Homo sapiens: one gene and its partners. The protein of the gene in region 2 interacts with the protein of the main gene of each other region in a pairwise test. Each region holds a gene or a part of one and is shown on either strand. Other genes may lie near its edges. The genes, in order: MVP, NRF1 and PLXDC1.

What was found.
Region 1: the proteins of NRF1 (region 2) and MVP interact in binary tests that used the Homo sapiens proteins (3 or more experiments, as listed by UniProt).
Region 3: the proteins of NRF1 (region 2) and PLXDC1 interact in a two-hybrid assay, tested with the Homo sapiens proteins (one large-scale study listed by BioGRID).

The regions. Positions count from the first base shown.
Region 1 is NC_000016.10:29,844,444-29,848,193, reverse strand, and holds the end of MVP (major vault protein), read right to left. Parts: intron 3,702-3,750; coding exon 3,315-3,701; intron 2,332-3,314; coding exon 2,215-2,331; intron 2,037-2,214; coding exon 1,910-2,036; intron 998-1,909; coding exon 809-997; intron 433-808; coding exon 205-432; 3' UTR 173-204; downstream 1-172. UniProt on the Homo sapiens protein: Required for normal vault structure. Vaults are multi-subunit structures that may act as scaffolds for proteins involved in signal transduction. Vaults may also play a role in nucleo-cytoplasmic transport.
Region 2 is NC_000007.14:129,618,084-129,621,733, reverse strand, and holds part of NRF1 (nuclear respiratory factor 1), read right to left. Parts: intron 1-3,650. UniProt on the Homo sapiens protein: Transcription factor that activates the expression of the EIF2S1 (EIF2-alpha) gene. Links the transcriptional modulation of key metabolic genes to cellular growth and development.
Region 3 is NC_000017.11:39,141,605-39,145,254, reverse strand, and holds part of PLXDC1 (plexin domain-containing protein 1 precursor), read left to right. Parts: intron 1-3,650. UniProt on the Homo sapiens protein: Plays a critical role in endothelial cell capillary morphogenesis.

The DNA of each region.
Region 1 (3,750 bases), on a different chromosome or scaffold from region 2:
TGGAGGTTACAGTGAGCAGAGATCACACCACTGCACTCCAGCCTGGGTGACAGAGCAAGACTCCAGCTCGAAAAAAAAAAAAAAGATGCCAGGGGCACCTCCCCTCCCCACCATTAAGCTCCCTGGTAACCCCAACCAATGTCAGACAAGAGAAAAGTGTTGAAATTGTAAATGCCCAGAAACTTCCATTGTATTAATCAGGAGTTAGCGCAGTACAGGCACCACGTGGTTGTCTCCAGGAGCTTGAGGGGCCTGAGCAGACTGGGGGGATATCCCCTCCCCAGGGCTGGGCCCACTGGCCACCCTTCTGCCCAGGGGCTGACCCTCGGGCCCCATCCCCAGCAGCCCAAAGGCTGTGTTGAAGAGGTTGATGGGAGTGGAGCCATCGGTGATGAGGGTTGATTTCAGGCCCAGGGACTGGAGCAGTTTTACCTGGAGGGTGAGAACAGGAGGAAGTTGAGATGGGCGTCAAACCCTGGCCACTTCAGAGTGACCCTCCTTAAGTCAGCTGGTTTGAAGGGTCACCTCCCCTGCATCTGACCACCCTGCTTGACTGCCTTGGAAATGCCTGTCAGACTGGCGTCCCATCCATTTCCTGTCTCCTCCGGAGCTCTGGCTCACTGCTGGGTCTAGTACAGTGCCTGACGTTGATGCAGCGTGACACTGTGTGAATGTCCCTGCATCGTGGGTCAGGTCACTCACCCCTCCCTTCCCCACAATCTTTCCAGATGTTGTGTTTTCCGCCTTGGCTCTGCCTTCCTGGTTTCAAGGTTGGTCCTGAAACCAACACACCTTCCCCAACTCTCACCTGCATCTCAGGCCCAGCCACAGCAAGGTCCCTGATGGTGCTGGGGCCTATGGCCTCTGTCATCTGCTTGAACTTCTTCACCTCCACCTCAGCCAGCTGCTGAGCCTTGCTCACCTCCAGCTCCAGCTGGGCCCGGGCATAGACCAGTTCCAGCTCTCGGACCTTCTGGACCCTCTGGAGCTCAGCCTCCTGGAAGAGGAAAAATCAATCATTCTTTATTTTTTGACCCAGGCTGGAATGCAGATCAGGACTCACTGCAGCCTTGAACTCCTGGCTCAAAGGATCCTCCTGCCTCAGCCTCCTGGGTAGCTGGGACTACAGGCATGTGCCACCACACCCAGTCAATTAAAAAATTTTGTTTTTGTAGAGATGAGGTCTTGCTATGTTGCCCAGGCTAGTCTTGAACTGGTCTCGAACTGACCTCAAATGATCCTCCCATCTCAGCTTTCCAAAGTGCTGGGGTTAGAGACCTGAGGCACCACACTAGGCCTCTTTTTACATTTATTTTTATTTACTTTATTTTTGAGATGGAGTTTCACTCTTGTTGCCCAGGCTGGAGTGTAGTGGCACAACCTCAGCTCACCGCAGCCTCCACACCTCCTGGGTTCAAGCAATTCTCCTGCCTCAGCCTACCAAGTAGTTGGGGTTACAGACACATGCCACCATACCCAGCTAATTTTTTGTATTTTCAGTAGAGATGGGGTTTCACCATGTTGGCCAAGCTGGTCTTGAACTCCTGACCTCAGGTGATCCACCCGCCTCGGCCTCCCAAAGTGCTAGGATTACAGGCGTGAGCCACTGCACCCGGCCTCTTAATGGGATTTCAAGCATTAAATAAGATAATGCCTATGAAGCATACACAGCACTTGTGCCAAGGTGGCCAGTGCATGAGCGCCCAGCTGCAAAATGGGTGTTCTAATCCTTACCTTCCAGCAATGGAGTCAATGAATCCTACAAGGCAAAGGACTTTGCAAATGCAAAGTACTTGGATAGGGCTTTATGTTGGGGGACCTGGTGTCCTATACAGTCTCAGGGACTGTAGGGAATGGGCCTTTTCCAGGACTCAAGGCCACCCTCTTCTTAATGCCTCCCCCCACTCACCGTTTCAATGGCCAAGGCCTGTGCTTTTAGCTTGGCCTGCAGCACGGACCCTTCTCCCTCAATCCGGGCTGCCTCCGCACGGGACTCGGCCTCCGCCTTGGCAGTCCCGGTGCTCTCCACGGCCATGCTGGGGAGAAGGCAGAGTCAGGTAAGACCCGGGAGACAGCCCAGTCCCCCCACGGCCTTGGCTTATGCTGTAGCCGTGCACTGTCTCATCGACACCCCACCCAGGCCTGCTGCCCACACCAGCTGCTGTCCTAAGACCCTCGGCCCCTGCCAGTCTCCTCCTCTAGTTCTCAACCCACCTCAGAGCCTCCAGCTCCAAAAGTTCCTTGCGAGCTTTCTCGGCTTCTGACTGGTCCAGGATCTTCTGCCGCTCAAGCCGGCCGCGGGCTTCCTGCTCCAGTCTCTGAGCCTCATGCCTGGAGGAGACGGAGCGCAGGTGAGAGGCTGGCATGGGGCCAGAGCAGGAACAGGAGCGCCAAGGGCAGCGGCCACCAACCAAACCGGTGCCCAGGACAGACCCCAGCCCCTAGAAGGCACCCAATACGCAACTCAACCCAGAATGGTATACGCGCCACAAGCCAGTGTCATTCTAGGCCGGACAAATGCAGGCGTGACTGCGGCCCCCTACTTTCACGCCACTTGAGTGGGAAAAGAACAAGTATACAAGGAGGATTTCAGACAGTGACAAGTGTGGGAGAGACCAGGCAAAGAGGGTGCTATTCAGCTGTGAGAGAAAGAAAAGTGTTCCCCAAGGAGGGGATCTTTGGGCTGAAGCCAGAAGGAGAAGCCTGCCTGGAAGGGAGCTCAGGGGCGGGGGGAAGCTTTCTGGGCAGCAGGAATAGCCATTGCAAAAGGCCTTCAGGTGGGTCCAAGCTGTGCATTGAAGGAGCAGAGGAAGCCAGTGGGGCTGGAACATGTCAGCTGGAACATGTTCCAGGGACGAGGAGCATGGAAGGGGGAGGCTAGAAGGCAAATCGGGGGAGGCCGGCTGGAGCTGCAGGAAGGAGTTTAGGTTTTATCACATGCAAGATGGGAGGCTGCAGGAGCCACATCTGATACGTGCTTTTTTTTTTTTTTTTCTTTTGAGACAGGGTCAGTCTCCCAGGCCTGTTGCCCAGGCTGGAGTGCAGTGGCGCAATCATGGCTCACTGCAGCCTCAAACTCCTGGCTTCAAGTGATCTTCCTGCCTCAGCCTCTCACAGTGCTGGGATTACGGGCATGAGCCACCGCGCCCAGCCTGATTCACATTTTAAGTGGGTCACCTGATCTGTTGGGTAGGGAATAGATCTTTGAGGGTAGGGATGGCAGCAGGCAGTCCACAAGGGATGCCAGGTTATCCAGTTCCCAGCAGTGGCCTGCCATGGGCATTATAGGCAGCCGAGCTCCCAGCCTCACTTACTTGGCCGCCGCTTCCTGGGAGTTGGTGGTGATCTCGATGGCCAGCTGGACGCTGCGTTGCAGGGCGTCCCGGGTCCTCTGATCCACAGGCTCCACTGACTGCACGTCCACACTGCTGACCACCAGCCCGTTTTGGGGGAAGACAGCCTGGTCCCGGGGCCTGGGCAGGGCCATGCCATCGGGGCCCTTCGCTTCCGAGGTCTCAAAGCCAAAGACAGCAGTGCGAATGATGCGGGCTGAGTTCTTATGGAAGTCATCGAAAGTGACAGAGGCCACGGCCCCCCGCACCCGGGATGCGATGGCTTTGCAGGCATCACCTACAAAGTCTGGCACTGAAAAGAGCTTGGCCGTCTCTTGGGGGTCCTTCCGGTCATTCACCTCAAAGTGCCTGTGAACAAACAGGCCCAGAATGGGGAAGCTGCTTTCACCCAGGAATC
Region 2 (3,650 bases):
ACAACAATTTTAACACTCAGTCGCATTACCACATAATTCTGGTAACATATCAGAATTACTTCTTCTTTAGACTTAGCACCTACAGCTAGTTTTGGGGTAAGAGACTAGTTCTATGATGGTATTCCATGATGTGTTCTTACTTAGCAAATCTTGGCTAGTTCTTTGATTTGTGGGCTATTTTTACATGGAAGATCTGTTACCAAAAATTTTATTTCATAATTGTTTAATGAAAGAAAGAACCAAAAAAAGTTCCCAAAGGAAAAGACAAAATACTCCATTCTATCTGGGCCCTCTTTGGAGATTTACTGAATGTAAAGATCATCCACAAACACAAGCTAATTACAAATCACATAACACAAGTTTAAGATTACCCAACATATTTATTCATATCATTCTTGTATTTACCAAGACTACTGGTAAAATAAATAAAAGTTGTAGACCCTCTCCCCAGAAAAATCACAAATTAATCCCAAGTGGCATTAATTTATTTTGAGGGTGGCAAGCAAAAGTATGGATATCACTGCCCCAGAAACTAGGGCCTAGCTGACAAAACTGCCTCCTAATCTAATTTCAAAGATGCAAAGATTAGCAGAAGGAAGTAAAAATTACCAATTATCTAAAATTTCAAAAAGAAATATTTTGGAAATCAAGTAAGATCTAGTGAACACATAATGTGCTTGAATTTCTTAATTTTATTCACGACTTTAGAAATGTGAATGCCAGCAATTTCTTAGCATTAAATCATCCTGGATCTCAAAGTATTCCATAATCGTCATATTTCAGAAAGACACTACAAAAACCATCAACGGTATTTTCATTTCATGGTCAGAAAAAATTTGCAAGGAGAAAATAAATGTCTTGCCCCATATCACTAGACTGAAATATTTGTGCATTTAAAATTTTTTCCAAAGCATAAGCAACACCTAACTTAAAAATGAATTTTTTCTGACAGATGAGCCAGCTTGGTAGAAAAATTTTTTTCCAACAAGCACAATCTATCAATTTGTTTTCTTTCAAAACACTTTCCCTTTAAAACAATAGTAATTTGGGCCCAGTGCGGTGGCTCATGCCTGTAATCCCAGCACTTTGGGAGGCCAAGGCGGGCGGATCACAAGGTCAGGAATTCAAGACCAGCCTGTCCAATATGGTGAAATCCCATCTCTACTAAAAATAAAAAATTAGCTGGGCATGGTGGCAGGCGCCTGTAATCCCAGCTGCTTGGGAGGCTGAGGCAGAAGAATCGCTTGAACCCGGGAGGCGGAGGTTGCAGTCAGCCAAGATCATACCACTGCACTCCAGTCTGGGTGACAAAGCGAGACTCTATCTCAAAAAAAAAAAAAAAAAAGTGATTTGATTCCCCTACCCCATAAAGCCTACTGTATCTACAGTGCATGAATAAACATATACTAAGTGTCAGTCCTAGAGTATAAAAAAACCAAGCAATCCAGAGACTTGACAAAATTCTGAAATCGGTTAAGCTTTGCTTTGGCATTCCTCCTACCTTCCTTCTGGTGCTCCTACTCCCATTTCTAAGAAGTTCCTCGTATCTTTCCAAAGTTCTTCACCTGAGACACCTACTCAAGATTTCTTTCCCTTGATCTGTCTCACTTGTTGAGATAACTGATTTCAGCCAACGAACACAACCAACACTTGATTTAATCATTAACATTTAGTAAAGGCCCTTGACTTTTCTGTGTGTCAACAGCCCCCTTGAAAAATCTCATAAATGTTGTGGACCCTCTCCCCAGAAAAATCACACATGCACTCACACATAACTTTTCAAACAATTTTAAGGGATTCAGGGTCACACAGCCAAAATATATAAACCCCAGAACCAGAAAACCCCAGGTTAAAAACCCCCATACTTAACATATTAATATCATAAAACCTCAAAACTCTGCAAGAGGTTATTTGTATTTTAAGACACTGTCAACTCAAATGAAATCTCCAATTCTCAGAATTTAAGACAATGTAAAAGAGGCAAAAAAAAAAAAAAACAACCCAAACAATATGGAGATTTTTAGGCAGCCTTGTCATTGGGGGTCATCTCCCAAAGCATTTAAGCTGCAACTCCCATTGCAGAGAGACATGGAAGAACAGGACCTATTTCTAAGCATGGGTCTTCTACTAAGTTAGATTCTGTAGGACCTACCCCTGAATTTAGTAATGCTCTAGAAATCTATTCTGTCTAAACTATCATGGTTCCCAGCAAAACAATACATATATATATATATATATATATACACACACACACACACACACACACACACACACGTGTATATATATGTGTGTGTGTGTGTATATATATATATATATATATATATATATATATATATACACGTATGCCAAGTCCAGTTTTTATCCCAATGATTTTTTTTTTTTTAATAGATACGAGGTCTTGCTATGTTGCTCAGGCTGGTCTTGAAGTGCTGGGTTCAAGCGATCCTCCGGCATTGCCCTCCAAACCAATGAACTCTGTGGTATTTCACACGGCTAACTTCCCTGTCAGTATTCACTTAATCCCTCTCTTCAGCTTCTTCAACCCTATAACCTTATCTGTTTAGCCATTCTTTCTCAACTTACTTCATAGGTTTCTATTCTTCTACTTGACCCTCAGATGTAGATGCTCTTCAAGGTTGCCCTTAGTTTTTTTTCTTCACTCCTGATATGGTTAAGCATTCCTAATCCAAAAGTTTAAAATCTGAAATGCTCCAAAATCTGAAACTTTCTGAGTGTTGACATGATGCCACAAGTGGAAAATTCCACACCTGACCTCAGGTGACATGTTGCAGTCAGAATGGAATCAAAACTTTGTTTCCTGCACAAAATTATTTAAAATATTGTATAAAACTGCATCCAGGTTGTAAGATGTATATGAAACACAAATGAATTTCAAGTTTAGACTTGGGCCCTATCTCCAGGGTATCTCATTATATGCATACCAACATTACAAAGTCAAAAAAAACTCCAAAACATTTCTGGTCCTAAGCATTTTGGATAAAGGATACTCAATCTGTACTATTTTCTCTTTCTTTTTTATAGACAGGGTCTTACACTGACACCCAAGCTGGAGTGCAGTGGCCCTATCATAGCTTGCTACAGCCTCAAACTCCTGGGCTCAAGTCATACTCCAGCCTCAGCCTCCCGAGTAGCTGAGACCACAGGTGGCTACCACTATACCTGACAAATTTTTTAAATTTTTGTAGAAACAGGGTCTCACAACGTTGCCCAGACTGGTTTTGAACTCCTGGCCTTAAGTGATCCTCTGCCTTGGCCTCCTAAAGTGTTAGGATTACAGGTGTGAGGCACCATGCCTGGCTTTCTGCAGTTTCTATATGGCATTATACTGATGAATGCAAATCCCCTAATTTATCCCAATGTCCCCTTGAGCTCCAGCCCAAATACCCAGGTACTTACTTGACCTTTCTTGATTCCCAGATATCTTAACACATCTGGAGTCATACTCTATTACCTTCCTCCTCAAATTCTGTTCTTCCTATACATTCCCTATCTTAAAGGCATCATCATCACCCAATAACCACACTATAATCTTTAACTCTTTACTCAATTGTCACTCAAATCTGACAACTGTGAAGTAAAAATTATCCCCAGAATCGATGTCCTTTTACATCACAATTCAATACTCTCAC
Region 3 (3,650 bases), on a different chromosome or scaffold from region 2:
CACAGTCTCCCAGGGAAGCTCTCAGGTTCAGGCCCAATGGCAGCCTGAGTAGGGCCCTCCAAGAACCTAGCCCACATGCCAGCCCCACCCCGGGGCTGCCCCTGCACCCTGGGAAACAGTGGGGATTGTCGGTCACTTTTTACTGCACTTTCTGTGGTTCTGAGTAGGCTCTGGAGCCAGCCTGCCTGAGTTCAGATCCTGCCATGGACTGGTTCTGTGACCTTGGGAGGTTCCTTAACGTCTTTGTGCCTCAGTTTCTCCATTTGTAAAATGGATTTTAAACTAGTAACTATTTCATGGGATTATTGTGGGGATTAAGGGGGTGGATGTGTTTAAAGCCCCTGGAATAGTGCTAGCACAGAGCAGCATTCTCTGAAAGTCAGCTATCATTTTTATTACTAGGGTGATTATTATGGCATCCCACTGGACTGCACACTACTTGGGGCCATGAGTGAGTGAATCAATGAATGAACAGCTTGTGTTCCGGAAGCTCCTTGGCAACACATGCAGGCGGGGAACGGGTCCAGGGAAAATGGAGCTCTCTCCAGTGGAAGGCAGGTGGGGTGAGGAGTGGCTGAGGGTTGGGCAGGTGTCCAACTTGTGTGTGAGCACATACGGGAAGGCCGAGGCTTTCAGGAAAGTCTTTGTGGGCATGTGCACAGGCACGTGGGCCCCTGCACATACACGTGAGCAACCAGCTGTGTTGGCTTCTTTCATGAGTCGTGGGGATGACGTCCTGTCCCAGGCAACAGGGAAGGAAGGGTGGCCAGGAAACAGATGTAGTATGGGTTGGAAGAGTAAGATTCAGGGCTAGGCCAGGGTAGGCCAGGGTCCTGGTCAAGCTCCCTCTCCATCCCTCGCCCTGCCCTCTTTCATGGACTCTTTACCTCTTACCCTGGCCTGAGCTCTCTATAAAACCTCATTTGTGTTTCTCACTTGACGCTTATGGCAGCCTGTACTGTGGGCACCATCGTCAAATCCATTTGAGTCACTAGGGAGCTGAGGATTAGAGAGGAAAACTGATGGGGCTAAGGTCCCATAACTTGTGAGTGGCAAGACTGGGTGTGGAGGTCAACCCAGTGTCTCTTCCCTGGCCACCCCCAGCTGGGCCCCCTCCCTGTCCTTCCCCGGGCTGCAGGCCTCCACCATCCCGCCTCCTGTCTCGGCTCCAGGTTTGTGAATCCTGAAGATCCCCAACACTCCTCTCTGGGCCGCTGAGCCCCTCCACTTGTTCACTACCCGCTCTATCCTGTTCTGGCTCCTGCCCAGGCCCCAGGGCTGCTTGCAGGAAGACCTGGGGAGCTGGGCAGACCAGCCCAGCACAAACAGCTCTGTCTCCAGAAGCAGCTGTGGGCCCCACCCAAGAGAGACCAGACAGCCCTGGCTTGGGCCTGGGCAGTGGGCAGGCTGCCTTCCCAGCCCTGGACTCATGTCCATCTGTGGGCAGCCAGTGGGCATCTTGGGGAAGGGGTCTGGGGACTGCCCTCCTCCCCACGTGCTCCAGCAGCATCTGGTTGCTATTAGGGGCAGAGAAGTGAGAGGGGGCCGGCAAGGGTCCAGTAGGCGCCAGCAGCCAAGAATGACTTAATTGGATACAATGTCTAATGACAAAGCAGGGCCCCACAGCGGAGTTCTGGCCTCAGCCCCAGGCCTGGGCCTGGCCAAGCCTGGTCTCAACCTCTGTCCTTGCTGGCTCCCAGGAGCTACCCTATGCACTGCGTCCTCAATTCTGCAGTGATGGAGCACCTGCTGTTTGCTGGACATGCCAAATTTGAAGAAGGTGGAGAGAATCCTGGGGGAACTCAAATCTACCAGGGAGATAGGCACATAGTCGCACACGTAGGTGCTCTAGGAGAGGGAGAGCCACATCCAGGAGCTCTGGGGAGTGGGCTGGGGGAAGGCAGAGGTTGAGACAGGTATCTGACACAGGGTGGGCCTGAAATGGAAGAGGGTCATAGGTGGGGAATGTCAGATCCACCTATCTGATGGTCTGTTCTCATATATACATCCATAGTAGGTGTGACCATTAGAATGACAATAAAAGCCACAGCTTTGGGGGGCATAAATCTTTTTGAAGTGGAAAAGGATGGTTTTTGTGTTGTTTATTTATTTATTTGGAGAAGGAGTTTCGCTTTTTTGTCCAGGCTGGAGTACAGTGGCGCAATCTCGGCTCACTGCAACCTCTGCCTCCCAGGTTCAAGCAATTCTCCTGCCTCAGCCTCCCGAGTAGCTGGGATTATGGGTGCCCGCCACCATGCCCGGCTAATTTTTGTATTTTTAGTAGAGACGGGGTTTCGTCATGTTGGCCAGGCTGGTCTCGAATTCCTGACCTCAGGTGATCCACCCACCTCAGCCTCCCAAAGTGCTAGGATTATAGGTGTGAGCCACCACGCCCGGCCTTTTGTTAGAACTAATTTAACAGACCTGGTGCAGTGGCTCACGCTTATAATCCCACCACTTTGGGAGGCCAAGGTGGAAGGACCGCTAGAGCCCAGGAGTTCAAGGCCAGTGTAGGCAACATGGTGAAACCCAGCCTCTACGAAAAATACAAAATAAAATAATAATAACTAGCCGGGTGTGGTGGCATGCAACTGTAGTACCAGCTACTCAGAAGGCTGAGGTGGGAGGATTGCTTGAGCCTGAGAGGTCAAGCGTACAGTGAGCTGTGATTGTGCCACTGCACTCCAGCCTGCATGCTAGAGTGAGACCCTGTCTCAAAAAAAGCATGCATTTAACAACCTAGAGGGAACTGGAGAGGAGATCATGGAACCTAAAGCCATTTCGCAACCTCCAGAAATGGAGGTTCGCATGGCCGCGAAATGGCCTGTGTGTAGTCACTTTCCAATCCTGTGCCCATGGCAGACATTGCTTATTGATCTTCACAGTCCTTCCTGCTAAATACAAGAGGAGCCTTTGCATTCTCAGTTGGAGTGCCTCTGGCTGTCACGAATGGATTGCAGATGGCATGTGATATGAAACCTATTTGCCATCCTAGACAGTATCTAGGTAGTGATAGGAGTAAAACAGTAAAAAATTACCCCTCCCTCAATGGGGCAAGGGGGGGTTAATTTTATTCCCCAGGGGATATTTGGCAATGTTTGGAGACGTTTTTCATTGTCACAGCTTGGGATGGGGAGGAGCGTGGTGCTACTGGCATTTAGTGAGCAGGGGCCAAGGCTGCGGCTGCTAAACATCTTACAGAGCACTGGACAGTTCCCGCATAACAATGAATTATCCAGTCCAACCAACAATCCAATTTAAAAACAGGAAAAAGACTTAAATAGACATTTCTCCAAAGAAGATATACAAATGGCCCACAAGCATATGAAAAGATGTTCGGCATCACTAATCATCAGGGAAATGCCAATTTATAAAAACGATGAGATATAACCTCATACCTGTTAGGATGGCTACTATAAAAAAAACAGAAAATAACAAGTATTGGCAAGAATGTGGAGAGATTGGAACCCATGTGCACGGTTGGTGGGAATGTAAAATGGTCCAGTCATTTTACATGGAAAACATTTTATATGGAAAACAGTATGACAATTCCTCAAAAAATTAGAAATAGAATTACCATACAATCCAGCAATTCCGCTTCTGGGTATATACCCAAAAGAATTGAAGGCCAGGTCTCAAAGAGATATTTG